4 linked regions of the Homo sapiens genome follow. Changing the gene in region 1 together with any one later gene gives a genetic interaction. Each region holds a gene or a part of one and is shown on either strand. Other genes may lie near its edges.

Region 1 (8,884 bases):
TCCCAGCACTTTGGGAGGCCAAGGCAGGCAGATCACCTGAGGTCAGGAGTTCGAGACCAGCGTGGTCAACATGGTGAAACCCAGTCTCTACTAAAAATACACAAAATTAGCCGGGCATGGTGGTGGGTGCTTGTAATCCCAGCTACTCAGGAGGCTGAGGCAGGAGAATCGCTTGAACCTGGGAGGCAGAGGTTGCAATGACCCGAAATCGAGCCACTGCACTCCAGCCTGGGTGGGAGGCAGAAGTTGCAATGACCCGAAATCGAGCCACCACACTCCAGCCTGGGCGACAGAGCTAGACTCTGTCTCAAAAAAAAACAAAAAAACAAAAACAAAAAAAAACAAAAAAACCCTATCAGAATGAATCAAATCATATATAAACTAGCACCCAGAACCTGACCAAATACAAAGAAAAGTGTGATTCACTGCTTAAATTAAATTAGAACACTTGTGTTAGTAGAGAATAAGCTCAGCCTGGCGCAGTGGCTCACAGCTGTAATCCTAGCACTTTGGGAGGCTAAGGTAGGAGGACTGCTTGAGCCAAGGAGCCAGAGACAAGCCTGGGTAACATGGGGAGATCCTGTCTCTACAAAAAAAAAAAAAAAAAAAAAAAAATTAATTAATTAAAAAATAAAAATAAAAAAGAGAGTAAGTTAGCTCGGCTCAAAAAAGCCTGGTGAAGATGCCTAATTTGGAGTTCAGATTTCACTAGCTTTAGTAAGTAAGAAATCCAACTGCTCTTCATCAGGCAGATGCTAACCACCAATCTACACATAAAGCACTACATAATTATCCACATTATATATTTCACAAAATTGTTTCAAATGGCCTTTTATAAATTTAGCTATTTGACTATTTTTATAAATTTCATCTAACCCACTTTAAGACTAACATCTTAAACTCCACATTTTAAAACTCAAATTAGGCCGGGAACAGTGGCTCACACCTGTAATCCCAGCACTTTGGGAGGCCGAGGCGGGAGGATCACAAGATCAGGAGTTTGAGACCAGCCTGGCCAATAAGGTGAAACTCCGTCTTTACTATAAATACAAAAAATTAGCTGGGCGTGGTGGCGCAGCCTGTAATCCCAGCAACTTCAGAGGCTGAGGCAGGAGAATCACTTGAACCTGGGAGGTGGAGGTTGCAGTGAGCCAAGATCACACCACTACACTCCAGCCTGGGGGACAAAGCGACACCTTGTCTCAAAAAAAAAAAAAAAAAAAAAAAAACTCAAATGAGTTTGGGATACCAGATTTAAAGCTAAGCTTTGTCACTCTCAGATTTTCACATTTTAATATTGATAATGATAGTTAACATTCTCTTTTCTGTTTTCAATCTCCTAAATCAAGTATTCTTAATCTGAGGTTCATGAACAGCCTTGGTGTGAACTGCCTATAACTTTATGCAAAATGTTATATGAGTATATAGACACAAAGGGAGCAGATGCATCAAATGTAACGTGAGTATGGCTACACGACCATAAATGGGTTAAATGTAACAGTCCCAAATCAAGATACCAGAAAATATCTATAAGGAGAGTAGAAAGGACAAAGAGTAATTCCACTTAAGTACTATTATTATACAAAGGAAATACATTCAGAGAAATTAAATCCATCATTGTTCTTGGAAAACATGAATTACATAATTCACTGAGTTTCACTGTTGAAGATCACTAGTTTGAGACGCAGACTGCACAAAATGCCCTATGTAAAGACCATAGATGGCCAAGTGAGGTGGGTCACACCTGTAATCCCAACACTTTGAGAGGCTCAGGCAGGAGGATCACTTGAGCCCAGGTGTTCGAGACCAGCATAGGCAACATAGCGACATCTCATCTCTTAAAAAAAAATTAGCCAGGCATGGTGCCAGTTACTCAGGAGGCTGAGACAGGAGGATCACTAGAGTACAGGAGGTTGAGACTGCAGTGAGCCATGACTGTGCTACCACCACTCCAGCCTGGGAGACAGAGCTAGATCATGTCTCGAAAAAAAAAAAAAAAAAAACCATAGCCACGTGGCTGGCACCGAGTAAGTGCTAAATAGCACCTAGTATTATTAAAAAGTGATGTTTCCAAAAGAATGGTCCCTCTTGTGAATAAAGGCATGCATATTTAACACTACTTGTCCTAATTAGGAAATCTACAAGCATAGAACACAGTAAACTTAACTGGAACCTATCACAACCTTGGATTTAATAAAGCAGTGTAGGGTGTTCCAGCCAATTGAGCCAACCTGTCACAGAAGTACCAAGGAAAACTATTTCCTACTTCTTCTGTACCCTATCTCTCACATGTTTCAGTCAGCCAACAAACTAACACTTAGTTCTCTGGCTCCTCAGGACCATTTTTCCCCTGAATATCATTCCACCATTACCCTATTAATAATCTGCAACACTCCCAGGGTGGTTCCAAAGAAAGGCCAAGACCTAAATTTTCTTCCCTAAATTACATTCCAGATATCAAAGCAGTAATCTCAGCCCCACCTTCTATAGGGAAACAAAGGAATAGTCTAATTGCTCCCCTCTCCCTCTAAAGCGGGGGCCGGGGGGGAGTCTGGGCATTTTGCCTAATTCTCAAAGGAAAATTCCAAAATGTAGTGGCGACAAAGTGGTAAAAAGCTGATAAGCAGCCAAACGTAGTGGCTCACGCCTGTAATCCTAGCACTTTGGGAGACCAAGGCAGGCGGATCACCTGAGGTCAGGAGTTGGAGACCAGCCTGGCCAACATGGTGAAACCCCATCTCTACTAATATAAAAATTAGCTGGCCGTGGTGGTGGACGCCTGTAGTCCCAGTTACTCAGGAGGCTGAGGCAGAAGAAATGCTGGAACCCGGGAGACAGACGTTGCAGTAAGCCAAGATTGTGCCACTGCACTCCAGCCTGGGTGACAGAGCAAGACTCTATCTCAAAAAAAAAAAAAAAAAAAAAAAAAAAAAAGCTGGTAAGCTACACATTTAAAATACCTCATGCACTGGCACACTACACCCATTTTCAGTTTTTCTTCATCTTAAGACACTCAGCCAAGCGTGGGGCTCATGCCTATAATCCCAGCACTTTGGGAAGCTGAGGCAGGTGGATCTCGAGACCAGGAATTTGAGACTAGCCTGGGGCAACATATTGAAATCCCATCCCTACAAAAAATACAAAAAAAAAAAAAAAATTAGCCAGGTGTGGTGGCACGCGCTTGTATTCTCAGCTACTCAGGAGGCTGAGGTGGGAGGATCACTGAAACCCGGCTAGGAGTTGGAGGCTATAGTAAGTTATGATTGCATCACTGCACTGTAGCCTGCGTGACAGAGTAAGACCCTATATCTCAAAAAACAGACACTCAAAGTTGATTAGCAAATTTTTTTTAAATCTCAAAACGTTAAGAAGCATCTTATTTTACCCTAAACATGTTCATATATTAGGAAAGTATATAGCTTGCCACAAAAGAAAGCTATTCTGGCCAGACGTGGTGGCTCACGCCTGTAATCTCAGCACTTTGAGAGGCAGAGGCAGGTGGATCACAAGGTCAGGAGATCATCCTGGCTAACACAGTGAAACCCCATCTCTACTAAAAAATGCAAAAATTTAGCTGGGCCTGGCGGCGGGCACCTGTAGTCCCAGCTAATCGGGAGGCTGAGGCAGGAGAATGGTGTGAGCCCAGGAGGCAGAGCTTGCAGTGAGCCCAGATCACACCACTGCACTCCAGCCTGGGCAACAGAACAAGACTCCGTCTCAGACAAAAAAAAAAAAAAAAAAAAAGCAAGCTCTTCTTTACTATCCAAAATAAAACTGAACTATTCAAACTACAAATAGTGAAACCATCACATAGGTATAGTCAAAACTACCCAGAAGAGAAAACACACACATACACAACACACAGCCAACAGATTGCTATGGAAGGTGAATATAGCAGGATGTTAGCACATACGTAAATTTTTTTTTTTTTTTTTTTGAGACAGAGTCTCGCTCTGTCGCCCAGGCTGGAGTGCAGTGGCGCGATCTCGGCTCACTGCAAGCTCTGCCTCCCGGGTTCAAATGATTCTCCTGCCTCAGCCTCCCAAGTAGCTGGGACTACAGGCGCCTGCCACCACGCCCAGCTAATTTTTTGTATTTTTAGTAGATGGGGTTTCACCGTGTTAGCCAGGATGGTCTCGATCTCCTGACCTCGTGATTCGCCCACCTCGGCCTCCCAAAGTGCTGGGATTACAGGGCACATACATAAATTATTAAGATTGCTTCCAGAATTAAAAAGACCAAGATACCTGAGAAATAAAATTACTCAGAAAGCAAAATTCCCTTTAAAAGCCAAGTAGAAGCCAGGCGCGTGGCTCACACAAGTAATCCCAGCAATTTGGCTGAGGTGGGTGGATCACGAGGTCAGGAGTTTGAGGCCAGCCTGGCCAACATAGTGAAACCCTGTCTCTACTAAAACTACAAAAATTAGCCGGGTGTGGTGGCACACACCTGTACTCCCAGCTACTTGAGAGGCTGAGGTGGAAGAATCACTTAAACCTGGAAGGCGGAGGTTGCAGTGAGCCGAGATCACGCCAACGCACTCCAGTGACAAAGTGAGACTCTGTCTCAAAAAGAAAAAAAAAGAAGCCAAGTAGAGAACTGGCAAGGAAGATTTGATTTTGAAGCACTTCCATCTTTAAGACAACGTTAAAAAAAAAAACTAAACTAAAATATTTGATGGTTAAAAACTGTCTAACATCCCTCATTTTAACTTAATTTGATTAAAGGGGGAAATTTTTATTTTTTATTTTTTTGAGACAGAATCTCACTCTGTCACCCAGGCTGGAGTGCAGTGGCCAATCTTGGCTCACGGCAACCTCTTTTTCCCAGATTCAAGCGATTCTCTTGTCTCAGCCTCCTCAGTAGCTTGGGACTACAAGCGCACACCACCACGCCTAGCTAATTTGGTGTTTTTAGTAGAGGCAGGGTTTCACCACATTGGCCAGGCCGGTCTAGAACTGACCTCAAGTGATCTGCCTGCCTCGGCCTCCCAAACTGCTATTACAGGCGTGAGACACCTCGCCCAGCCAAAAGCGGGAAATTTTTTAATGCAAAATTTCAGGCTGGACATGGTGGCCCACCCAGTGCTTTGGAAGGATCGCTTGAGGCCAGGAGTTTGAGACCAGCCTGCACAACATAGGAGGCACAGTCGCTACAAAAAAATTTTTAATGTGAAATTTCAGTTGTTATCTTCATTTTATTTTACTTTATTTTGAGACAGAGTCTTGCTCTGTCGCCCAGGCTGGAGTGCAGTGGCGCAATCTCAGCTCACTGCAATGCCCACCTCCAGGGTTCAAGAGATTCTCCCGCCTCAGCTTCCCAAGCAGCTGGGACTACACGCAGGCACGACCACACCCAATTAATTTTTCTATGCTTAGTAGAGACAGGGTTTTGCCATGTTGGCCAGGCTGGTCTCAAACTCCTGACCTCAGGTGATCTACCGCCTGGGCCTCCCAAAGTGCTGTGATTATAGGCATGAGCCACTGTGCCAGGCCTCAGTTCTTATCTTTAAATGATCCTACAAGATTATCTCATCATCTCATTCACACAAAATTCTCAATATATATATTTTAAAGGTTTTATACAACTACTGAATACTTAAATTACCGGAAGAATTACAGATGGTGATATTCTATAGACATTTAAAAAATCATATTCTGGACAATGAGAATACTAGTTATCTTTCTTCTTTAAACTTTTCTGAGTTTTTCAAACCACCACCAAAAGTCACAAAGACAACCTGCTTTCACTTTCAAACACTTAAGTTTTGTTAAAAATTATTTGAAACACAATGCAAGCAAAAAAAAAAAAAAAGGTCAAATGTTTCTTGAGTATAACATGAAAGAAGAGCAAAGTCTGAAAGACTGATAACATTTTCAGAGATTCTGGAGCCATGATATACTTAAGGGGATGGGGGCTAAAAATAAGGTAAATACTTTAAACTTTTTCTGCATTAAAGAATTATAGTTGATCTAAGTAGACTACTATATTTCTTCCTACTATAGTTAGCTGGTATACTGAAGACAGGTAGACATGCTTTATTCTTAACACATTCCTTAAAGATGAACCAATCAAAATTATTTTCTTGACACTAAAAAAATCCACTGGAAGCCAGTGGATTATGAAAAATGTTATGAGAATAATCACGAGAATAATGTTAAGTATTTCTTTCTTTTTTTTTTTTTTTTTTTGAGGAGTCTCACTCTGTCCCTCAGGCTGGAGTGCAGTGGCATGATCTGGACTCACTGCAGCCTCCGCCTCCCAGGTTCAAGTGACTCTCCTGCCTCAGGTTCCTGAGTAGCTGGAATTACAGGCGTGCACCACCACACCCAGCTAATTTTTGTATTTTTAGTAGAGGCAGTGTCTCATCATGTTGGCCAGGCTGGTCATGACCTCAAATGATCCGCCCACCTCGGCCTCCCAAAGTGCTGAGATTACAGGCGTGAGCCACTGCGCCTGGCCATGTTAAGCATTTCTTAATGTGCTGAAATAATCACTGCCTGCTTCAAAACGTAGCTCAAAAAAAATCCACATTTTTCTTCAGATCCTCAAAAAAAAGCTTTAACCCTTTCTATCTACTTTTTTAACTGTTCAGATTACACTTTCAATTGCCTTTTTTTTTTTTTTTTTTTTTTTTTTGAGACAAGTCTTGCTCTGTTGCCCAGGCTGGAGTGCAATGGTGTGATCTCGGCTCACTGCAACCTCCACCTCCGAGGTTCAAGAGATTGTCCTGCCTCAGCCTCCCGAGTAGCTGGGATTACAGGCGCCAGCCAACACACCCAGATAATTTTCTGTATTAGTAGAGATAGGGTTTTGCCATATTGGCCAGGCTGGTCTTGAACTCCTGACCTTAGGTGATCCACCTGCTTCAGCCTGATCAACATTAGAGATGGCTGGGTACTCTATACAAAAATTAGCTGGTTATGGTGGCAAATGCCTGTAATCCCAGCTACTCAGGAGACCAAGGCAGGAAAATCGCTTGAACCCAGGAGGCAGAGATTGCAGTGAGCCAAGATCGCGCCACTGCACTCCAGCCTGGGTGACAGAGTGAGACTCCATCTCGAAAAAAAGAAAAAGAAAAGAAAACAAAAACAAAAAAAAACACAAACAGCCAGGCACAGTGGCTCACGCCTGTAATCCCAACACTTTGGGAGGCCAAGGCCCGGGCGACAGAGCAAGATTCCGTCTCAAAAAAAAAACAAAACAAACAAAAAAAGTAATACAGCTACCAACTCTTATGTAAACCAATATAAATCTAAAAATTCTGTTGCTTCAGAATCTTTTTTCTCAAGATCCCATTTTCACTACCAAATTTAGCAGAACCCATTAACAAAGATTATAAATTTCTAAAAGAAACAATATAAATTGGTAATGATAAACCAAAGTAACTTAAGGAACATCTGGAGTACATTTGTAAACATTAGCTAATATACCATTGTTAGTTATTAAGATAACATACTGGAAGCAGGAAAAGCATCCACCCATTAAAGTTTTAATTGAAGAGAAAGCAAGACTTTGGAGTTTGGAACAAGATGTTAAAAACGAATGAGCTTGTATTTGCGTGATAAAACACTAAAGAACTTTTCTTTCTTTCCTTTATTTTCCAAATTTTCTCTAATTACTTTTATAAAGATAACAAGCTTCATTAAAACAAAAAGAAACTGCTTAAGTCAGATTACTAAAAATCTGATTGCTCACTGCCCTTGTGACCTCCCCTAATAAAATATCCCTCACTTCCTCTCACCCTAAGTAATTTTCACTAACACTTTTGCAAAGGTTTTCTCAAATTCCTGTATTATTTTACTAAACAGTCTAGAATACAAATATAGTAGGCCAGATACCCATGTATTTGATCCCAGAAAAAATATAAAAACTGTTTCTGGGTTTGATCCCTTTGAGGTCATTAGTCTTCAAAAGAAAGGATGATTTGACACCGTATTTACTTATTAATTACTGTCCTTGTCATTTATGAGCCATTCCTCCTTCTTCTCCCCCTTGAAAATTCCTAGTCACTCCCTCTGTTCCTCCAAATCTAATTGCTGATAAATCCCTTTCAGGTCTCTCTTCTATAAAGTCTTCCAAAACCCAGATAGCCAACCACAACCCACCATCCCCCTGAAATCTTGTTGCTCTCATCCATGCCACACATCTGGAATTTGCTATATCTACTGGTATTTGACATGTATAAAATCTATTTCTGCCGGGCGCGGTGGCTCACGCCTGTAATCCCAACACTTTGGGAAGCTGAGGCGGGCGGATCACTTCGGGAGTTTGAGACCAGCCTGACCAACATGGAGAAACCCCGTCTCTACCAAAAATACAAAATTAGCCGGGAGTGGTGGCACATGCCTGTAATCCCAACTTCTCGGGAATCTGAGGCAGGAGAATCACTTGAACCCAGGAGGCGGAGGTGGCGGTGAGAGGAGATTTGCGCCATTGCACTCCAGCCTGGGCAACAAGATTGAAACTCCGTCTCAAAACAATAAATAATTTTTTTTTTGAGACGGAGTCTTGCTCTGTCGTCCAGGCTGGAGTGCAGTGGCCAGATCTTGGTTCACTGCAAGCTCCACCTCCCGGGATCACGCCATTCTCCTGCCTCAGCCTCTCGAGTAGCTGGGACTACAGGTGCCCACCACCACGCCCGGCTAATTTTTTTGCATTTTTAGTAGAGACGGGGTTTCACCGTGTTACCGAGGATGGTCTCGATCTCCTGACCTCGGGATCCGCCCGCCTCGGCCTCCCAAAGTGCTGGGATTACTGAGGTGAGCCACCGCGCCTGGCCTATATCTAAACTTCTTAAGCGCAAGGATTATATTCCTAAATCCTGGTACTAATAGAATGCCTTTCATGAAAATGATGCATACCACCTGAAGAATGCTCACAC
Region 2 (8,693 bases), on another chromosome or scaffold:
AGTAATTATTTGCCCATTTCAGCTTTTTATTAGCTACCTACAACAGTGATATCTCACAAGATTTATATTAACACACTAACATCTAACACACTAACATATAACATGTCTCTTCATCCCTTTTATACACATCTGTCTTTTACAGTTGATGTTCAAAAATACTTCTGAAGCTAATTTAAATGTTTAAAGTCGGTGACCTGAAAAACGAGAATGTCTATACATCTAATTTAGAATGGCTAAATTCAAAGATACCATTCTGATGTTCACATATATAGACTTTCATAGTCACAGTTAGTATATTAAAGGAATAATTCTGGGCCCTCAGTACAGTACAAAATGTAATTCATCTCACACTACACCTACGTCAATCATAAATCATAACCTACCTTATGCAACAGTTTCATCCTCAAAGCTGAAACTAGTCCTTTTACAATAACCTTAGCAGAAATGTACCAACTGCCCCCAGTCAAGTTCTACCTCTACCACCCCAATCTAGCCTACACATACTGAGCCTTTTTTTAACACCATTTGGGGGGCTCCAAAATATAATATTGGGGCTCCAATATAAAAAAGCTAAGTAACTATCTAGAGGCTCTTTTGTTCATAAACAACACTATACTGTATTTCTCAAATTTGGGGTAGGAAATAATTCTGAAGAGATATGAGTCTAAACAGTGGAATTCCGAATACCTACTTAGAATAGAGGACAGTAGGTATAAGTAGTACATAAAAGTTCATTAGAAGACCCATATAATGTACAGTTAGAGATTTTAATAGAGATTCAGTCTTATGAATTATCACTGTACACATACAATTTCCACAATTCTTTTGAACATTGAAACAACCAGCTTAGACTACTAAACGACTGTCCCTTCCACAAGGCTAGTTGTCTCTTTTTAAAATATATCACTCCTAAGAGAGCCTGATTTACTAAGTGAGCCCTAACAAAATTTCAGGTAAGCAAATCTTGTTTTATCATCTCTACGAGCATGTCTCCCTGCCTTCAAATGCCCTCAAGCAGCTGTAAGACTTCAACTCTGTAAAATCCTGTAGATCTTCACATATTATTATAAAACTACTTGTATCTACAGCCTCTCAAAAATCAAAGCTTTTAGCAGCTCCATGAGAACTTTTTAAACCAATTCACTCTAAATTATGGAAGTATAACTGATAGCCCTTTAATTTACCTAAAGGCATTTTCACTTTTAAATGAAGTTTGTTAACCTAATTAACTTACATACTTTCAGGAAGTTTACAAATTAGAAAATCAAAATGAAAACTTTCATACAGAGTAAGAAAGGGCATATCCCAGGAAGAGAAGATTGGAAGCTGGAGTCTAGCATATGTATCCCACTCACCTAGGCATGTAATCATACACCTTATAATCACTTGGTTCAATATTTGATTTTTTTTTTTTTTTTTTTTTGAGACAGAGTCTTGCTCTGTCGCCAGGCTGGAGTGCAGTGGTGGGATCTTGGCTCACTGCAACCTCTGCCTCTTGGGTTCAAGCGATTCTCCTGCCTCAGCCTCCCGAGTAGCTGGGGCTATAGGCGTGCACCACCACGCCCAGCTATTTTTTTGTATTTTTAGTAGAGACGGGATTTCACCATGTTGGCCAGGATGGTCTCGATCTCTTGACCTCGTGAATATCTGATTTTTTTCAGTGACAACAAAGCTGGTGCCCAGAGACCAAGGTTAACCACTCATACTACAGTACTATACAGCCTCCTCTAAGGTATTCCTGCATTTCATTTCACTCCAGACCTCTAAACCCATGGGTTCCCTACAGCCTAACTTTTGCACAACAGAACTTAATAGTAGGGGTCCCTGGACTTCTGTGGAAAAAGGAAGTTGCATGTGAGGTGGGAATTTGAAAGAAGAGTATGAATAGTTTAAATTCCAGAACTGCCTTGGATTTCTAGATGTCGTATGTAACTCCAAAACCAAACAATAGACATGCTTAAGAATATTCACAATGTCCCTAAATTAAAGCATATGTTTATGCTTCTCTTATGGGGGAATAAAGTGGTTTACAGGCTTCTGGTCAATTCATAGGTCATATTGTTTACTTTTATTTAAAATTAAGTTAGGTCTGCCTTTTTAAAGGTAAGAAAAGTTAAATTTTAGACGAAAGTCTAAATTTGTTACATTCAAAAGGAATTATGTATTAAATTCAAAAGACAATTTAAATTCAAGTTCTATTTTTTTCTGCATGTGCTTTAAAGTTGAGTTATATACACCTAAACAAATTAAAAATTATTCAACTGGCATATACATTGTAAACGAATATCTCATTTAGGAACCAGATGATACTTTATATATATTTACACATATGTTTATATATATACACACACACATACATACATATATATTCAAAATACAATCAGGCACTAGACAAAATAGTCATATTGTTGGTATTACGATTTTATAAGTTTGTTTTGTTCTGATTTGCATTTGAAAATTAGATCAGCCAAAACTTGATGGCAAATAGTCTGATTTACAGCCCAACTATGACAGTCAAAGGAGACACCAGAATTACCCGTCACTAAATCCCATCACCAGTATTACCAGGGAAGTGGGTGAGGACTGTCAAGGGCATTACAGGTAATGGAACAGCAACACACAAAGATTTGGGGATTTTAACAAACTAAAACCAGTATTTCACGAACACCTAATAAGGACAAGATCACAACCTATCCCCACATGGTCAAATTAACTTGGAAAGGAGAAAAACTTCACTCTGACATCGATTGGTACTGCCTTCTTTGGGGAGGAAAAAAAGCATTTTTATACTCTGAACTCTGTCGTTCTCATAGACAAAGTTATAGCAGTGTTTGCAGAGAGTAGGGAGTATCCCATCCACCACTTATTTCTTTCTCATATCTACTCAGTAATTCAATACAAGAAAGAAAAAGATAACCAGGACTTAAAGCAAAAACAGAATTCAGTTCCATGCTCCTCCCAAGCCTTATTATTTCCAGGTGTTATAACTGGGAGTTCCGCGGACAGATTTGAGTTCTACTTCCGCTCCTTTAACCCCCTATTCCGAAGAGTCCAAGAGCAGCAGCAAAGAAAAAGACCAACTCGAAAGTGGGGAAGGGATGTTGGGGTTAAAGAGGGGAGTTAAATAACCAGACCTTTAGTGAAGAATAAAGAATTCAGGCTGTAGTTTGTAGAAATAAGTTATTACAGGCCTGTAAAGTCTGGCGCTGGGTAAAGCCCAAGAGGCTTTCCCTAACTCCAAAACGGCGACCTTTAAAGTAAGGGAGGGTTGGGGCACCACAGCGGCCGGATTTCTAATTGTGGAAAGTTTAAACAAATTTGTCCCTCGGGGAATGGGGGAAGGGAGAGAAGAACAAGTCTGGGCTCGGCCGGGGAGCGTGCGGAGTCTGCACGCCGCGGCCGTCGGTCCAACGCGGGGAGGCTCAGGGATTTTCGGCAGCAGCGACTTCATCCACCCCGGACCGCCGGCTGGAGGACGTGCCTGCAGCCGGCGGGTACCTGCGGCCAATTCGGTGGAACGAGGACGCGGACTGCGAAGGCAGGTGGGTCTGGCACGAAGGGGCAGGAGTCCTAGGCTCTGGGTGGAAGTTGGGGGTGGGACGGCGCCGGGAGGCCGGGGAGGCAGCGGCGAAAGGCGGCGGGCGGCTCTACTTACTCGGCTGTACCAGATGCTGAGGCGGGCCGCGGCCAGCACGGCGAAGAAAGCCCTCTGCGGGTCGGACTGAACGTGGAAAGGCGCCTCGGCCGGGCTCCCCAGAGGGCACAGCAGCCTCTTGGGCCAGCCGCTCAGAAAATACATGGTCCGTGCGGAGCCCCCGGCGCCCCCAGTTGCGTCCGTCACACTCAGCGGCCCCGGGCTGGTCGCCCACCTCCCACACCGCCACCGGCCGAGTCGGCGGCGGCGGCGGCGGCAGCTCGGGGCATCTGCCCGCTGGCCTGGCCGGGCCGGGCCGACGCAAGGCTGCGCGACGAAGGCACCCCCAAGCTGACGGGGCCGAGTGTGGGGGAGGGAAGGGGAGGGAGAGTAGGGACACAGAGAGGGCGGGAGGAGCGCGGAGGCCCGCCCCGACCCCGCCCCTTCCTCAGGCCGCGCGGGCGTCACCACGCCGCGCCGCGTGGGTCGGGCCGGGGAGGGCCCGCGCGCGCGCTCTGGAGACTCCTGCGGTCTCCCTAGCTGTTTCTTGAAGCTCTGCATAAGCCTCGCCCGCGGCCGCCGGGTTGCGTCCGCACTTCTGCGCGCTGGCCCCTCCCTTGCTCCTCTCCCTAGCAGTCTCCAGGGTTTTACCGGGAGGACCTAGGCAACGGCCTGAGACTCCGAGGCAAGTGGGGCGAGTCTAGGGATAACGCAGCAGCAAGGCTACTGGGCCGGTGGAACACGCCCTGGCCTGGCCAAATTGGACCTCCCTTCCGGATTGGCGGGGTCTCGGTGGGGGCGGGCCGGTTGCCGGGGGGAGCTGGAGTCACGTGACGGCCGGCGCGGTTTCCCACTTTGGGCTGCCGGCCGCTGTGGCTGTGGTGGGCGGTAGGGGCTTTTACCGTGTGAGCTCCTTTAATGCCGGGGTCTGCAGTGAGAGCTGGTGATGAAGCTCCTGCCGGTGTGGAGCTTACATCCCTAAGGGAGCGTTTATTTAATCAGTAAATAAACCACTCACCATGAAAGTATTGAGTTCTGTCTCCTGCCTTTCAGGAGTTCTAAATCTATGTCTTTGAAATCCATTTCCATTCGTCTCAGCCTTACCAGCCATAACTTTAGATGAGAGGAGGCTATCTCTTTCGTGCTGCAAAAGGCTTGGACTTAGTTTTAGAACTGGAAGGGACTGGTGATAGCGTAGGTCCATATTTAGCTTTTGGACCCCAGGTATCACCTTAGCTGTAACTTTCAACGGATTGACCCAGTGGTAACGTCTGAATAGAAGGAGGGTTGAGGGGATATGGTGTGGAATGGGGGAAGGAGGAGTCTGAAATAGAAGAAAGATTTGCTTCTCATTGTCTACCTTTTTTAGTACAGTTTGAATTTTTCCATATGTTTGTATTACTTTTTCAATTAAAAAGCCAGGTTTAAAAAATGACCCCACATTAAAAAGTAGCAACGTAGGCGGGGTGCTGGGGCTCACGCCTGTAATCCCAGCATTTTGGGAGGCCGAGGCGGGCAGATCACTTTAGGTAAGCAGTTCGAGACCAGCCTGGCCAACATCGTGAAACCCCCGTCTTACTGAAAATACAAAAATTAGCTGGGCGTGGTGGCAGGTGCCTGTAATCCCAGTTCCTCAGGAGGCTAAGGCAGGAGAATCGCTTGAACCTGGGAGGCGGAAGTTGCAGCAAACCAAGATCCCTCCACTGCACTCCAGCCTGGGCAACAGAGTGAGACTGTCTCAAAAAAAAAAAAAAAAGTAGCAACATAAACAGAAAAAAGGAAACAAAGAAACTTAATTCATATTAGATATAGCATTGTAGCTGGTATTCATAACCAAATATGTAACTTTCTGTAATTTTTCTAAACATTCACTGCATTCCCTGGAAGGTGATGATAGAATCCTGTATTCCTCAAATGGAGGTTGAAACTGCCTCACCACTCACCAGCCTGTTGCGATCAGATTGTCTCCTTGGCGTCTACCCTCCCCCAGTCCAACACAGCAGCCTGGAACATAGTAAGCATAGTAAGCTGGCAGTATTTGTCAGACAAACCGTGGAGGAAACCCTGATCCAGCTGAGCTACACCATTAGACAAAGAGGCCCAGAGAGGTTTCTTAACTTGCCAATTTCAAATTGTAGAATAACAAAGTTGCATCATACTTTCATCTTAGATTCAGTTATGCACTTGGCAGAAAGAGGAAATGAAAATGTTCTAGTGCAGCAATTTTGCTGGCAGTGTTACTGAATGTTTGTCCCAGCTGTCTCTCAGAGAGTCTTTGTTCTCATGTGTCTCAAGTTTGTCATACTGTGCTCATGGGCAATTTAAGGAACTTCTAAGCAATTTTTATTGCACTCAATTTTAACCTTACTTGCTGACTTTAGAAGCTTATTCCTCTGCCACACTCCTGTGTAGCACTTAAGATTCACAAAATAATTCCAAATGCTTGTCTTGATTTAATTCATAGTAAACATTCAAGGTGAGTGACATTGGTGTGATGTTGTTATTCTCACTTTCTCAAGTGAGGAAACAGGACAGGTGTGGTAGATGTGCCTGAATTCACATGGCCTGAAAAGAACTGATGTTCTTTCTACAGATCCAGTGTGATTTCTTTCTTTTTTTTTTTTTTTGAGGTGGAGTTTCGCTCTTGTTGCCCAGGCTGGCGTGCAATGGTGCCATCTCAGCTCACTGCAGCCTCCACCTCCTGGGTTCAAGCAATTCTCCTGCCTCAGCCTCTGGAGTAGTTGGGATTACAGGCATGCACCAACATGCCTGGCTAATTTTGTATTTTTAGTAGAGACGAGGTTTCTCCATGTTGGTCAGGCTGATCTGGAACTCCCGACCTCAGGTGATCCGCTCACCTCGGCCTCCCAAAGTGCTGGGATTACAGGCGTGAGCCACCGCACCCAGCCTCCTGTGTGATTTTTTTAAAAATTTAAGGTTTGGCTGGGCGCGGTGGCTCATGCCTGTAATCCCAAAACTTTGGGAAGCCAAGGCAGGCGGATCATGAGGTCGGGAGTTTGAGACCAGCCTGGCCAATATGGTGAAACCCTGTCTTTCTGCTAAAAAAAAAAAAATACAAAAATTAGCCAGGCATGGTGATATGCACCTGTCATCCCAGCTACTCTGGAGGATAAGGCAGGAGAATTGCTTGAACCTGGGAGGCAGAGGTTGCGGTGAGCCGAGATCGCTCCACTGCACTCCAGGCTGGGTAACAGAGTGAGACTTTGTCTCAAAAAAAAAAAAAAAAATTAAGGCTTATGGCATCCCTGCATCAAGTAAGTCTATTGTTGCTGTTTTTCCAACAGCATATGCTCTTTAGGCTGAACTAAATTGTGGTAATTGCTCTGGACAGTGAGAGGGAGTGGGGGAAACCTCTAGGTCTTTCTCCCTGGCGGGGAGAAAAGGAAATATCTGACTCTCCAAAACCCTATACTTGAGAGTTCCCCTATTGTGACAAAAATGTTATTGGCTGGATTTTTCAACATCATTTCTTTTTCTTTCTTTCTTTTTTTTTTTTTTTTTGAGACAGAGCATTGCTTTGTCACCCAGGCTGGAGTGCAGTGGTGCAATCTTGGCTCACTGCAACCTCCGCCTCCCGGGTTCAAGTGATTCTTGTGCCTCAGCCTCCTGAGTAGCTGGGACTACAGGCATGCACCACCACGCCTGTCTAGTTTTTGTATTTTTAGTAGAGATGGGGTTTCATCATGTGCCAGGCTAGTCTCCAACTCCTAGCCTCAAATGATCCACCAGCCTCGGCCTCCCAAAGTGCTGGGATAACAGGTGTGAACCGCCGTGCCTGGCTTCAACTTTCAAATATCATATTTTAACTTTATTTTGTAAAATATACTGACAGTTCTCATGCCTTAGGTCTTCTCCTCCTTTTTCTACTAGTTTCCACCACCACTCCTGTCAAAATTTTTGGACTCTGTTCTAAGATTAAGCTTATGATAAAAGTTAGTAGGGGGCCGGGCAGGGTAATCACGCCTGTAATCCCAGCACTTTCGGAGGCAGAGGTGGGCGGATCACTTGAGCCCGGGAGTTTGAGACCAGCCTGGGCAACATGGTGAAACCCTGTCTCTACAAAAAATCAGTCGGCACTGTGGCATACACCTGTGGTCCCAGCCCCTTAGGCGGCTAAGGCAGGAGAATTGCTTGAGCCTGGGAGGCAGAGGTAATAGTGAGCCAAGATCATGCTATTGCACTCCCACCTGAGTGAAAGGAATGAAATCCTGTCTCAAAAAAAAAAAAAAAAGTTACTAGGTGCATGTTTTCATCTATGAAACTTATAAACTTTTTAAATTACTAGAAATAATGTTGGTAAGAGTACACATAAGAAATGGGGATACATTTATACTCTCTTGATGGAAGTATGATTTGGTGCAATTTTTTTTTTTAATATAAGGTTTGTGGTAACCCTGTGTTGAGTGAGTCTATTGGCACCATTTTTTCTAATAGCATATGCTCACTTCATGGCTCTTATCACATTTTGGTAATTCTTTCAATATTTGAAACTTTTTCATTATTAGTATATCTGTTATGATGATTTGTGGTCAGTGGTCTTTGTTGTAACTATTGTAATTGTTTTGGGGTGTCATGTACCACATCCATGTAAGATGGAGAACTTAAGCGATAAATGTTATGTGTGTTCTGACTGTTCCATCAACTGGCAGTTCCTCTGTCTCTCTCCCTTTCTTTGGGCCTCCCTATCCCCTGAGATGCAACAATATTGAAATTAGGCCTGTTAGTAACCCAACAGTAGCCTCTAAGTGTTCAAGTGAAAGAAAGAATCCCCGTCTCTCACTTTAAGTAAAAAGCTAGAAATGATTAAACTAAGTGAGGAAGGCATATTGAAAGCAAAGATAGGCCAAAAGCTAGGCCTCTTGTACCAGTTAGCCAAGTTATGAATGCAAAGGAAAAAAAGTTCTTAAAGGAAAGTAAAAGTACCACTTTGGAGAACATAGGAATGATAAAACAAAACAGCCTTGTTGCTGACCTGGAGAAAGTTTTAATGGTCTGGGTAGGAGATCAAGCAAGCTACAACATTCCCTTAAACCAGACG
Region 3 (5,591 bases), on another chromosome or scaffold:
ATAACTGTTATTAAGTGTCTCTCCTTTGGTAACACATGCTCACTCTTCTTCTGATTTCCAAACACATTAAGGTTTTCTATTTTGCAATGTCCTGAAACTCTTGGACTTACTTCATTCACCTACTCAGTTCCTACCATTTTTAAGATGTTAAAAATCTGAGGCATCTCCTCAGAAGGTGAGTTCTACTAAAGTTATCTTATAAGCATTGGTTGCATATTTTACCTAATTTCTTCTCTGAGAGTAGGGATAGCTACCAGGCTTCTTTTTCTTATGCTTGTAAGAATATACGACAGGATTCTCCTCCCTTTATGCTGAATATTACCTGTTTTGACATATTCCAAATTTTACTTTTCTTTCCACTGTTTGAGGCAATAATTTTTAAAAAATGATGATGATGATTCCTGGGCCCACTTAAATATAGCCGTTAGTTATTTTTCTGCCATGGCCTGTTCCAAGCCTTCGTGTTGTTATAATCCATCCTCATCTGTGCGTCTTGTAAAAAGTCATGATTTTCTTCCTGGCTCCTTTCAACATCATCCCCCTCTTTCTTTAGAAAATAACTTTACCTATTTAGAGTTACACACATAGAAGCTACAGCATCTGGAAAGTGTCCCTTCAACTCCCTGAAATTTCTTTACTGACTACTTACCTGTGAGATTCATCTTAACTCTACTGAACATGGAATAATTATATAACAAAAACAGTCCAGGTCTGCCAGGCTATTCCACAGGCAGTAGCTGCAAAAGAATTTAAAATGAGAGACAAGTAAAGTGAATCAGAAGTATTTTCTTAGAACATCAGCTTGGAAACCCAACAGCTGTTGAGTAAATGTGCTGCTGTGGTGCCTTCATTAAAATGGAAAGGTTTTGTGATAGATATACATTAACTGTGTTGCTTGTTTTCTTAGGCTCCAGGTTATGGAGATGTTAGGTTGTCTTTGGAGGCAATACCAGATACCGTAAACCTTGAAGAACCTTTTCATATTACCTGTAAAATAACAAACTGCAGGTAATGCCACTGTTTGTAGATGGATGTCCTTTCTACCTCACCTGCCTAGAAGATAATTTTAAAATCTTTTTGTTACTATCTCCTTTTAAGTTTTCCTCTTGACATACAGCCTTCTCTGATGTTGATATTGAGTACTGTAAAATTCTTCATCTGGTAGCAGTATAATTACATATTTTTAAGGGCCTATTGTATTATGCATCTTCTGTATTTTATTTCATTCATTTGTCACACCCTATGAGGTAGGTATTCATTGTTTATACTTCCTTCACCAAAACATGAACTAATAGGTTCTTATGTATTAATATATTATGAATTGAAGTAGCAAGATTTTTTGAGGCATGCTTGTACTTGAGCTGTATCTTGAGTATTAAGAAACCAAACATTGCTTATGGATTTAATGTAAGGGGAGATCATTGATTCGAAAACTGGGTTTTGACAGTAAAGAGAGAGCATAATCTGAACTGTCAGGAAGCAAAGAGCACAGGGCTTTGAAACCAGAAAAAAATAGAATTAAGTTCCAGTCCTATGCCCTCTGCTCCTACTTGTATTACCACTTGGTTTGTATTATTATTTGGGGTATTTTTATAATATTGCAGTGATGAATCCTAGTCCTCTTAGTGTGAATGTATAATCCTTTTAATTCCATATTTATTCTTTTTGGTATTAGAAAGATAGGAAATATTTATCCTTCAAAATTACAGAAATACCCACTTCCTCTATGAAGCTACCTAGACTTTCCAAAGCACAGGTATTCATGCCTTCTCCATCATAGAAAATTTTAACTTAGTTTTTTAGTGACACTCATATATTGTGTATTTAGTGACACTCATATATTACTGTAAGTATTAGTCTCTTTCTCACTGGACTGGAATTATTCAGGAGAAGGGACATGGCCTTACTCAGTGTCTGCCACATCGTGAGCTCAGTAAACAACAATACAGGGCAAAGACCCTGTGCTTATAGGGTGTTACAGGGTGTTGGGGAATTTTTGGTTTTTTTTTTAAGTTTTTTCAGCAAATCAGTTTATTGACCAGCTCACAAGTGTTATTTTTTTCAAAAGTTAACTTCTCTTGGTGTTCACTTTAACTTTTGGTGATTCATACAAGTTTTCTAAAAAGCACATGTCTCTTAGATCTTTAGTTTCCTCTCTATATAAATGTCATTCCCTGCCCCTACACACCAGGGACATGCACAGACACATGCACACAACATATATAAGTCTTACTGGATTTTTGTGAAATTAACAATATTCATGTAGTGCATCCACCTTGGTCTCTGGCACATAGTAGCCATCTCAAATGCTTGTTAGGGAGATTCAGGCATATACAAGTTAATATTATAAAGTCAATATGTCTAAAAAAAATAAAATTTAAATAAGCAATTTAAAATTTGGAGCCAAGTATAAGAATAAACAGCTAAAAGCCATAAGTAGCCGTGAATGGTGGTAGGAGACTATTTTTCATTATGAGCCTTTTGGTTATTTAAAGAAGAACAATGTGCATACTTTCATTAAAAGTTTTTTTAACTTATTTAAGCTGAACTGGTGATATCTATTATAAGCAGAAGTAGTCTTTTCTTGGTAAATAATCCAGTTAGCAAACCTGAATAGTATTTATGTCTTATGAATCCTGCCAGTTGTTTCCCAAGTTATGGTAAAGTAACATAGATTAGGTATCAAAAGGACTAGACCAGAATCAGTTGTTTTCTTCTTTTCCTGTAGAGTACCTAACAGAAATAGTGAGAATATATGGCAACAAGATTAGACACAAATGTGTGGAAGTCTCCCAGAAAAATGGTAGCACCAGATCAGCACCAGGAGGCCAGTGTTGAGTAATAGAACCAGAAGGCCAACATCCAGACAGGCAGATTAGTCTGAGGCTATTTTAAGTGCTAGAAGGTGTGACTTCCTTTCATCTTCCTGGTTCTATCTTAAGTGACATAAAAAATGTTATAATAGCTTTTCTCTTTCTGGTTTTTATTCTCCTGGATATGGAGAAAACAAGTTTACTGTCACTAGTAGAAATATTGCAGTACCTCTTTGTGAAATGAACAAGATTTATTCCTATTATTCTGATTCCTCCAGCAGTGAAAGGACTATGGATCTGGTTTTGGAAATGTGCAATACCAATTCCATCCACTGGTGTGGAATTTCAGGAAGACAGCTGGGAAAGCTGCATCCAAGTTCTTCGCTCTGTCTTGCCCTTACTCTGCTTTCTTCAGTACAGGGACTGCAAGTATGCTGTCTTTTCAAAAATTCCAATATTTGGGTGCTGTTAACTTACAAGTCATTTGTGATGTCTGTATTTCCTCTGAATGAATGAAAACTTAGACTCATCTCTCTCTCTCTCAATAGAGCATCTCTGGCTTAAGACTAACAGACACATTCTTAAAGAGAACATATGAATATGATGACATCGCACAAGTCTGTGTGGTATCTTCTGCCATTAAAGTGGAAAGCTGAAGGAAACTTCCAATGTTAGGCTTTTCATTTAGTTTCACAGAACTGCTCTTTTTGTTACCTTTGTAAAATGATGACGTCAACAACGAAGTAAATATGTTACTTAAATTTTCTTTCCTGTAAAATGGTTAAAATATTAAATATTTGTTTTGAAGAGATCTGATTTTATCTTGTAATTTATATTTGAAATGAACATGTGTATATTTTCTACACCTATTATTTAATTTCATTTCATTTTAGATGACCATTGGACTTTGTTCTCCAAAAGCTGTGTATCTGAGACCATTTGTCCCTAGCAAGTTATCTAGAACACGAGTCAGCACACTTTTTATGTAAGGTACAAGATACTAAATATTTTAGGCTTTGCAGGCCGTAAGGTTTCTGTCACAAATACTGAACTCTGCCATCGTACTTCAAGAGCAGCCAGTAGGCAAAAAAAGTACAGTGGTGTACACAAAAAGAAGCAGTTGGACTCGGGAAGCTGAGGCAGGAGAATCACTTGAACCGGGGAGGCAGAGGTTGCAGTTAAGCCGAGATCATGCTACTGCACTCTAGCCTGAGCGACAGAGTGAGACTCTGTCTCAAAAAAAAAGAGGCAGCTGGGCAGATTTGGCCTGCAGGGTATAGTTGGCTGACCTCAATCTAGAAGATAGAGTTGTTTCTTAGAACTTTGTAATATTTTGGTTAGAAATATTTCAGTTAACTCCAGTTTTTTCCTAGCTATTCGGTCAGCAGAAAAAGTTTGCTTAAAACAAAGGGGGTAGTCCTCTTATAACCTGATATTTGTCAACACAGTATAAGCTTTCTAGTTGTTTTCAAAATTACTGTAATGGTTTGTGTCTGTATTTGTATATTATACCTACAAACATACATATCTTTCAGCTACTGAACACATCAGAATTGGTTTTACTTTTTAGGTTGTTGATTTTTTTTAATTAACTATTAACTAAGAATAATACTTATTTTCTAATTATAAGCCAAAAACCCCTGGGTTTTTTTCTCATTGATTAAGCCACTTATTTTTATAAGGTATATTTAAATAATTCCCATCTTCTGATATGATTTTAAACTCTAAATCATGTGTTACTGTTACAAAACTTTCTCTCTCCATGTAATCACACTTAGTTATGAGCAAAGCAGTGAGAAAGTTGAGGTGATAAACAACTTTGCAGCATTAATGTAACAAAAAGTTTCAGTATTTGTCAGGAAAACAAAAGCTTAGGCTGTTAAATAAAAGCTATTCTATTTTGGTAAGTTGAAATTCAAGAATGTATATATAATTTCTTAAATGTAAGAGTGCATTAAATCAAATACAAAAATTGGTTTTTCAATGCATCATTATTTATTGCCATAACAAATTGTTTGGTCCAAAATGAAAGCTATATTCAGAAGGTTTGCACCTCAAAATTGAGTAATAATTAATGAAATGTCTGTACAAAATAAAGTGCAAGCAGTGTAAAATTGAAGTCTGTCTTTGTTTCAAAATGATTAAGATTAAATGATGAAATAATATTTTATAGCCACTGCATTGGATACTTGGATTGTTTTTCAAGCATCTTCTTATGACTAAATCTTCTGTTTCATTCTGTTTTAAATCTAAAAAGTAAAATGATGGTCACTTGGAATCTGCTCTATATTTTAATTATAGTCTCTTCTGTTTATAAACAATAACTTACACATATTTTTCATAGTTTTAAGTAAAGATTAAATAATGCCATCTTAGAAAGGATCTGTTTAACCTATATTATAAAAGTTAGATACACAATTTGGTACATTAAATGAAAATGTCATTTGCATATATAGAACCTGTTCTGTTTTACACAGTATCATAATAGCTACAGCTACTACAAGAAATATGGTTAATGGAAGTCAAACATTTAGTACGATGCTTAAAGAGTTACTTTAATAATGCCCTCTTATTTTTCTAGTTAGATAGCAACTATATTTCCCAGACAAGCAAGAAAATATATGGGGCATTTTTTATAAATTTAAAAGTAGCTAGCACAATCCAACCACGCAACTTTTTTTGAAATAGCTTGCAATGCTATGATTCCAAAGTGATCAAGGTACTTGAAGAGCAAAAATGGCTTGAATAGAATGGAAATGTAGGCAAGTGGACAGATAG
Region 4 (7,961 bases), on another chromosome or scaffold:
ATCTTTATGTTCTCCCAGGGTGTAGATCTCCGTCACTATTCAAAGCAAGTTGAGCTGGAGCTACAGCAGATTGAACAGAAATCCATTCGGGATTGTATCCTCCAGCAGAGGGAAGGGGTGGTGCTATTGACATGGGGATTTTGTGGCGTGTGGTACAGATGTCCCAGCTGGGGTCAACATCTCTGAGGTTTCTATCACTTCAAAGAGAAATTGGAGAGGTACTACAAATCTGAGGATCTCCCATCTTCACCATGAGGCCCCTTGACTTTTTGTGGATCAGATATTCAAGAGAGTGAGAATATAGCATCTCTACACAACCAGATCACAGCCTGTGATGCTGTCCTGGAGGTTAGTAATCATGACCTGTGACCCCTAATAGCTACTCTGAACCAGATCATGGACTCTGGTGCCATTTTTAGGTCATCAGCCTCAAGATGGGGACAGGTTAGGGTCATTTTCAAGATGACTTCAGGAGCCTTTTTTGTTATTACTGCCATATTTAATGTTATTTCCTGATAATCTGGGGTGTCTCATCATCTGCCACCCTCAAGGACTGATAAATACTGAAGACTTCACAAAGAGTCTTTGGTGGCCCACTTATCCCCTACAAACCCTATAGCACTCCGGCAACATCTACCCTCCCTACAGCGAATGGAGCAGATGTTGGGAGCTTTTCAGAGTGACCTCAGCTCCATCAGCTCTGAGATCCGGACACTGCAGGAACAGTCAGGAGCCATGAACATTCGACTTCGAAATCGCCAGGCAGTTCGGGGGAAACTTGGGGAGCTTGTTGATGGTCTGGTGGTGCCTTCTGCTCTGGTCACGTGAGTTACCAGTTTGAAGGGTTATAATGTCCATAGCAGGTGGATGGGCTGGGGTGACCCACCCTATTTACCATATGGGTCTCCTGGCTCCAGGTTAAGTGCTTTTTAGAAATTAGTAGCCAGGTTAACCACCATTTCTTTAGGTATGCATTAGGCATCAAAGATTAAGATTAAGAATGATGTAAGATCAGGTGTATAGTGGGGAGGTCCAGGAATAGAAAACTTTGTACATGTGTCCTGACTATATGGTACAATGCAAGGTGGTAGAGATGACAGGGGCTGGAGGTAAGGAGTGTGGTCTGGGTCTGGTTTAGGGATGTCTGGGTCTCCCTTGTAACTCATCCCACCCCTCCCTGCTAACCAGGGCAATTCTGGAGGCTCCAGTGACAGAGCCCAGGTTCTTGGAGCAGCTACAGGAGCTGGATGCCAAGGCAGCCGCAGTCAGAGAGCAGGAAGCTAGAGGCACAGCAGCCTGCGCAGATGTCAGAGGCGTGCTCGATCGGCTCCGGGTCAAGGTGGGAAGTAGGGATGGATACCCTGGAGGCTACTGGAAGCAGCCTTCCCAAGATCTTCACTATGGATTTCCTTGGCAGAGCTCACTGTAGCCTGTCTCCAGGGACTTCACCCTGCCTTTTCTGGGCAGCCCCATTCTTGTCTCTCTGGGTTTCCCTGAAAATCTTGAGAAATACCAAAGAGATATTCACCACCCTTCTGCCTATGTTTACCATTTGTTGCTTCCCCCAGTTCCTCTCATACAGCAAAAGGGTTGCAGCTTCATGCCCTGTGTTTGGTTCCCCACATCTAGGCAGTGACGAAGATCCGAGAGTTTATCCTCCAGAAGATTTATTCCTTCAGGAAACCCATGACCAACTATCAGATCCCCCAGACGGCCCTGCTGAAGTACAGGTCACAACCCCAAGGAAGTGCATGGGATGGCCTTTGAGTTTTTGAGCGGCCTAGTGTGGGCATCTGGTTTCTTGGGAGACAGGTAGACTGACATGTTCCTGACCCCCTAGGTTCTTCTATCAGTTTCTGCTGGGCAATGAACGAGCAACAGCAAAGGAGATCAGGGATGAATATGTGGAGACGCTGAGCAAGATTTACCTGTCTTACTACCGCTCTTACCTGGGGCGGCTCATGAAGGTGCAGGTAAGGTCAGGAGGGAGAGGTATTCCTGGGCACATGGACTGGGAGGAGGGGACATCCCTGGGCAAGGAATATTTTATTGTGTTGTGGGAAGAGACGGTTATCAGTTCTCTTTTCTCTTTCCTTAGTATGAGGAAGTCGCTGAGAAAGATGATCTAATGGGTGTGGAAGATACAGCAAAGAAAGATATCCTAGTACTGGGGAACCCTCATGCCAGGCCTTGAGAGTGGGAGGACTTTCGACTCCAGCCACCAATGCACTGCTCCTTACCTTTTCCTATGGGACTGAAACCTTTTAGAATGTGATGAAAGCTATAGCCTCCCTCCCCAGAAAGATGCACACATTATTTTGACACATAGTTTTGCATATGATTGCAAGGGAGGGAGAGACACCCTGAAGCCCATTCACAGATGTCAGCACGTGGGGCCCTAGTACTGGGAAAGAGGGCTGGCTAGGCCACGTCTGCCTGTCTGGGGTCCCCACAGATAGTGAGTCTTTGGGCCCAGTTATGGTCTCATTGTTTTCCCTGACTCTGACCCATCTTACGATTCTTCTCAAAGCCATCGCTCCGCAGCAGGAACACCATTTTCACCCTAGGAACCCGCGGCTCTGTCATCTCCCCCACTGAACTTGAGGCCCCCATCCTGGTGCCTCACACAGCGCAGCGCGGAGAGCAGAGGGTATGAGGAGGAACAAGCTTCAGTCACGAAAGAGGCTCTGAGCACGGTGGGGAGGGAAGGCCAGACCTCAGGGCAGAGCTTCCCAACCTGCAGGCCCTGTCTTAATCCCCTTAGACTTGGGAGTGGCCTTCTCCAATCACTCCAGCCTGCTGTGATGTGAAAAGAGCTGGGAACCATTGACTTAAGGGCATGCAGAGGGGAGAGACTGGATGAGGGGAATGACAGTCAGAGGCAGGTGTTGAGGTGGATGCAGGAGTAGCAACAGCAGGTGGGTGTAGGCCCTTTTTGTACCCCTATGTTCCCCCACCTTTTCAGTGCCCATTCAGCTTGCTCTTAGACAGCCCGGACCTAGATAGATGCGAAGGGTCTGCCTAGCTCTTATTACTCAGGTTTACTGATTTTCCAGCCATATCCATGGGAAGTCAGTGTTGGGGTCCATCCCTTCTGTTTTTCTTCTTTACTCCTCCTCTCCCAGTATCCATTTGAGGCCCTCTTCCGCAGCCAGCACTACGCCCTCCTAGACAATTCCTGCCGCGAATACCTTTTCATCTGTGAATTTTTTGTTGTGTCTGGCCCAGCTGCACACGACCTGTTCCATGCTGTCATGGGCCGTACACTCAGCATGACCCTGGTAAGACTCCTGTTTCCTGTACCATTCAACACCTTTGTCCCCAGTCTTCATCAGCAGCATAGTGGGGTCATGACTCTGGTAGAACTGAAATCAGGATCGCCTCATTCTAAAATGTCTAAGCCTTGGCTGGGCGTGGTAGTGCACACCCATAATCCCAGCACTTTGGGAGTCCAAGGCAGTAGGATTGCCTGAGCTCAGGAGTTTGAGACCAGCCTGGGCAACAACCTCATCTCTACAAAAAATGAAAAATTAGCCGGGTGTGTGTTGATGTGTGCCTGTGGTCACAGCTACTAAAGATGCTGAGGTGGAAGGATTGCTTGAGCCCAGGAGGTCAAGGCTGCAGTGAGCCATGCACTCCAGAGTGAGACCTGTCTCAAAAAAAAAAAAAAAAAAAAATAGCCAGGTGCAGTGGCTTACGCCTGTAATCCCAGCACTTTGGGAGGCTGAGGCGGGAGGATCACAAGGTCAGGAGTTTGAGACCAGCCTGACCAACATGATGAAACCCTGTCTCTACTAACAGTACAAAAATTAGCCAGGTGTGCGCGGCCTGTAATCCCAGCTACTCGGGAGGCTGAGGCAGGAGGATTGCTTGAACCTGGGAGGAGGAGATTGCAGTGAGCCAAGATTGCGCCATTGCACTCCAGCCTGGGTGACAGAGCGAGACTCCATCTCAAAAAAAAAACTTGTTACTTAGACTTGTCACAGTGTTACTCCCCCATGAAATCCTCAGTGCGTAGGGTCCCTGAGACTACCCCTACTGCTGACCCACAATCAGGCAATAGCACGTGAAAACTGAGGGTCCCCCAAATCTTGGTGCTCAAACCCCTGACCCAAGCTCAGCCCTGAACTCTGCTGTGATAGGCTTGTGATCATAGATCCTGGTGTGGCCAGGTGCAGTGGCTTATGCCTGCAATCCCAGTACTTTGGGAGACCAAGGCAGGAAGGTTGCTTGAGGCCAGGAGTTCGAGACCAGCCTGGGCAATGCGGCAAGACCTTGTCTCTACAAAAAATTTAAAAATAAACTTAACCAGGCATGGTGGTACACACCCATGGTCCCAGTTGCTTGGCAGGCTGAGGTGGGAACATCACTTGAGCCCAGATGTTTGAGGCTGCAGTGAACTATGATTGTACCATTACAATCCAGCCTAGGTGACAAAACAACCTGTCTCTAAAGCCGAAAACACCGGGTGCAGTGGCTCACACCTGTAATCCCAGCACTTTAGGAGGCTGAGGTGGGCGGATCGCCTGAGGTCAGGAGTTCGAGACCAGCTTGACCAACATGATGAAACCCCATCTCTACTAAAATACAAAAATTAGTCGGGCGTGGTGGCAGGCGCCTATAATTCCAGCTACTCAGGAGGCTGAGGCAGGAGAATTGCTTGAACCTGGGAGGCAGGCGGAGGTTGCAGTGAGCCGAGATTGTGCCACTGCATTCCAGCTTGGGTGGCAAGAGTGAAACTCTATCTCAAAAAACAAAAAAAAAGCCAAAAACATAGATCCTGGACAGGAAAGCAGGGGGCAGTTCCATTTTACGTCTCTCCCTTCTGTCCTGTCCAGTGCATCATCCCCAAAGAAACAAATGCGTTTGTTCATAGTCACTGAGGACAACAAACTGACATTCTCTTTTAATCCTCTGTTTGTTCCCCAATCACACAGAAACACCTGGATTCTTATCTAGCTGACTGCTACGATGCCATTGCTGTTTTTCTCTGTATCCACATTGTTCTCCGGTTCCGTAACATTGCAGCAAAGAGGGATGTTCCTGCCCTGGACAGGTCACTGAATTCTGGTCCTTGATGCCCAACAGGCCACGAACTCTCTTGGTCTTGCATGACTCTGCCCTGACCTTAGACTCCTACTGACCTGGTATCATCAACCTTTATTCCCATTCATTTGCTCCGGAGGCAGTAGTGCTGCTTTTTGACTCACCTTTCTCCAACCACTGCCCCCCAACCCCCACAACTAGCTATTGACCATTAAACTGAATGATGCCCCACTCCCTCCCATCCCCCTCCAACATTCCTTGCTGGCTGACCTCTGATTCTGATTAAGCCCACAGGTACTGGGAACAGGTGCTTGCCTTGCTATGGCCACGGTTTGAACTGATCCTGGAGATGAATGTTCAGAGCGTCCGAAGCACTGACCCCCAGCGCCTAGGGGGGTTGGATACTCGGCCCCACTATGTGAGGGAGGGCAAGGGTAACAAAGGGTTCTTGAAAGGCAGGGCTCTAAGCATCATTGTGGGGGTTGGCCAAGGTCACAGTTGTGTCATGGGCCACGCTATGAGCAGGTGTTCTGGGAGGGTGGTGAAACTCATGGTGAGTGGTGCACTGTGGGTAGGAGGGACTGAAGGTAGAGTCACATCACATGGAGGTGGGTTGGCTAAGGAAGTTGGGAGGTTGTGTTGGTTGGGCCAGGAGGTGGGTGTGATTTTCCTTCCCACTCTCTCCTAGATCACACGCCGCTATGCAGAGTTCTCCTCCGCTCTTGTCAGTATCAACCAGACAATTCCTAATGAACGGACCATGCAATTGCTGGGACAGCTGCAGGTGAGGGTCGGACAGGAGACACTTCCCAGCAGCAGGGCTGCTTCCAGTGGGTGGAGTCTGAGGAGGAGCCAGATGGGGCCCAGATGACCTTGCTTTCTGGTGTCACCTCTTCCTCTCTGCCTTTTCAGGTGGAGGTGGAGAATTTTGTCCTCCGAGTGGCAGCTGAGTTCTCCTCAAGGAAGGAGCAGCTTGTGTTTCTGATCAACAACTATGACATGATGCTGGGTGTGCTGATGGTAATAGGTGCTCCTTCTCCTTGCCTTCCTACCCAGAAAATTCGGTTTCCCCCACTGCTGTTAGCTCTGTGAGGGCAGAGATGATGCCTGTCTTGTTCAGTGTTTTACTCTTGGAGTCTGGCACAGTGTCCAGCTTAGTACAATAAGTGTGGAATGAAGGGGACATCCTGAAGTGAAGGACTGCTTTCCCCAAACTAGACATTTCCCTTTGTCTTCCCTTAGGAGCGGGCTGCAGATGACAGCAAAGAGGTTGAGAGCTTCCAGCAGCTGCTCAATGCTCGGACACAGGTAGGGGTGTGGGGAAAAGGGAAGAGACAGCCTTCTGTGCTGTTTTCAGCTCTCTCTCTCTCTCTCTCTGTGTGTGTGTGTGTGTGTGTGTGTGTGTGTAGGGAGTGGCATAATGGATCTCAGGTATGCGGAATTACTGTAACTCTTGATTCACAACATACTGTCATTATTGGTCTATTTTATTTTATTTTGTCTTTGGTTTTTTTTTTTTTTTTTTTTTGAGGCAAAGTGTCACTCTGTCACCCAGGCTGGAGTGCAGTGGCATGAACATGGCTCACTGCAGCCTCAACAGCCTGGGCTTAAGTGATCCTTCTACCTTAGCCCCCTGGGTAGCTGGGACCACAGGTGCGAGCCACCATGCCTAGCTAATTTTTTATTTTTAGAATGAATTTTATTTTTTTCTTTATCTATCCTCTCAAGCATTTATCCTTTGTGTTATAAACAATCCGATTACACTAAGTTATTTTAAAATGTACAATTAAGTTATAATTGACTATAGTCACCCTGTTGTGCTGTCAAATAGTAGGTCTTATTTATTCTTCCTATTTTTGTTTGTACCCATTAATCATCCCCACCTTCTCCCCAGCCTTCCACTAGCCTTCCCAGCCTCTGGTAGCCATCCTTCTACTCTCTTCGTACATGAGTACATGAGTTCAATTGTTTTGATTTTTAGATTCCACGAATCAGTGAGAACACATGACGTTTGTCTTTCTGTGCCTGGCTTATTTCACTTAATATAATAATTTCCAATTCTATGCATGTTGTTGCAAATGACTGAGTCTCATTCTTTTTTATGGCTGAGTAGTACTCCATTGTGTATATATCCCACATTTTCTTTACCCATTCATCTGTTGATGGACACTTAGGTTGCTTCCAAATCTTAGCTATTGTGAACAATACTGCAACAAACATGGGAGTGCAAATATCTCTTCAATGTACTGATTTCCTTTCTTTTGGGTATATACCCAGCAGTGGGATTGCTGAATCATATGGTAGCTCTACTTTTAGTTTTTTGAGCAACCTTCAAACTGTTCTCCAAAGTGTTTGTACTAATCTACATTCCCACCAACAGTGTATAAGGGTTCCCTTTTCTCCACATCCTTGCCAGCATTGCTATTGCCTGTCTTTTGGATAAAAGCCATTCTGACTGGAGTGAGATGAGATCTCATTGTAGTTTTGATTTGTATTTCTCTGATAATAGTGATGGTGAGCCCCTTTTCATATATGTCTGTTTGCCATTTGTATTCTTTTGAAAAATATCTATTCAAATCTTTTGCCCATTTTTTAATAGGATTATTAGACTGTCATGTAGAGTTGTTTGAGCCCCTTATATATTCTGGTTATTAATCCCTTGGCAGATGGGATGTGCAAATATTCTTTGTCTCTTCACTTTATTGTTTCTTTAGCTGTGCAGAAGCTTTTTTTTTTTTTTTTTTTTTTTTTGAGATGGAGTTTTGTTCTTGTTGTCCAGGCTGGAGTGCGATGGTGCGATCTCAGCTCACCGCAACCTCCGCCTCCCAGGTTCAAGCAATTTTCCTGCCTCAGCCTCCTGAGTAGCTGTGATTACAGGCATGTGCCACCATGCCTGGCTAATTTTGTATTTTTAG

The links.
Region 2: changes in RAB1A (region 1) and RIC1 are lethal when combined (synthetic lethality), as found in Homo sapiens cells (one study listed by BioGRID).
Region 3: changes in RAB1A (region 1) and TRAPPC13 are lethal when combined (synthetic lethality), as found in Homo sapiens cells (2 studies listed by BioGRID, with this or other methods).
Region 4: changes in RAB1A (region 1) and VPS52 are lethal when combined (synthetic lethality), as found in Homo sapiens cells (one study listed by BioGRID).

What each region holds. Positions count from the first base shown.
Region 1 is NC_000002.12:65,119,252-65,128,135, forward strand, and holds part of RAB1A (ras-related protein Rab-1A), read right to left. Parts: intron 1-8,884. UniProt on the Homo sapiens protein: The small GTPases Rab are key regulators of intracellular membrane trafficking, from the formation of transport vesicles to their fusion with membranes.
Region 2 is NC_000009.12:5,624,416-5,633,108, reverse strand, and holds the start of RIC1 (guanine nucleotide exchange factor subunit RIC1), read right to left. Parts: upstream 4,003-8,693; 5' UTR 3,800-4,002; coding exon 3,656-3,799; intron 3,543-3,655; exon of another isoform or gene 3,382-3,542; intron 1-3,381. UniProt on the Homo sapiens protein: The RIC1-RGP1 complex acts as a guanine nucleotide exchange factor (GEF), which activates RAB6A by exchanging bound GDP for free GTP, and may thereby be required for efficient fusion of endosome-derived vesicles with the Golgi compartment.
Region 3 is NC_000005.10:65,661,143-65,666,733, forward strand, and holds the end of TRAPPC13 (trafficking protein particle complex subunit 13), read left to right. Parts: intron 1-907; coding exon 908-1,008; intron 1,009-3,091; coding exon of another isoform or gene 3,092-3,094; coding exon 3,095-3,242; intron 3,243-3,361; coding exon 3,362-3,469; 3' UTR 3,470-5,091; downstream 5,092-5,591.
Region 4 is NC_000006.12:33,261,877-33,269,837, reverse strand, and holds part of VPS52 (vacuolar protein sorting-associated protein 52 homolog), read left to right. Parts: intron 1-18; coding exon 19-94; intron 95-280; coding exon 281-348; intron 349-648; coding exon 649-824; intron 825-1,188; coding exon 1,189-1,339; intron 1,340-1,629; coding exon 1,630-1,730; intron 1,731-1,840; coding exon 1,841-1,973; intron 1,974-2,098; coding exon 2,099-2,156; intron 2,157-2,516; coding exon 2,517-2,650; intron 2,651-2,764; coding exon of another isoform or gene 2,765-2,830; exon of another isoform or gene 2,831-3,106; intron 3,107-3,125; coding exon 3,126-3,281; intron 3,282-4,937; coding exon 4,938-5,056; intron 5,057-5,340; coding exon 5,341-5,464; intron 5,465-5,734; coding exon 5,735-5,830; intron 5,831-5,958; coding exon 5,959-6,066; intron 6,067-6,288; coding exon 6,289-6,354; intron 6,355-7,961. UniProt on the Homo sapiens protein: Acts as a component of the GARP complex that is involved in retrograde transport from early and late endosomes to the trans-Golgi network (TGN).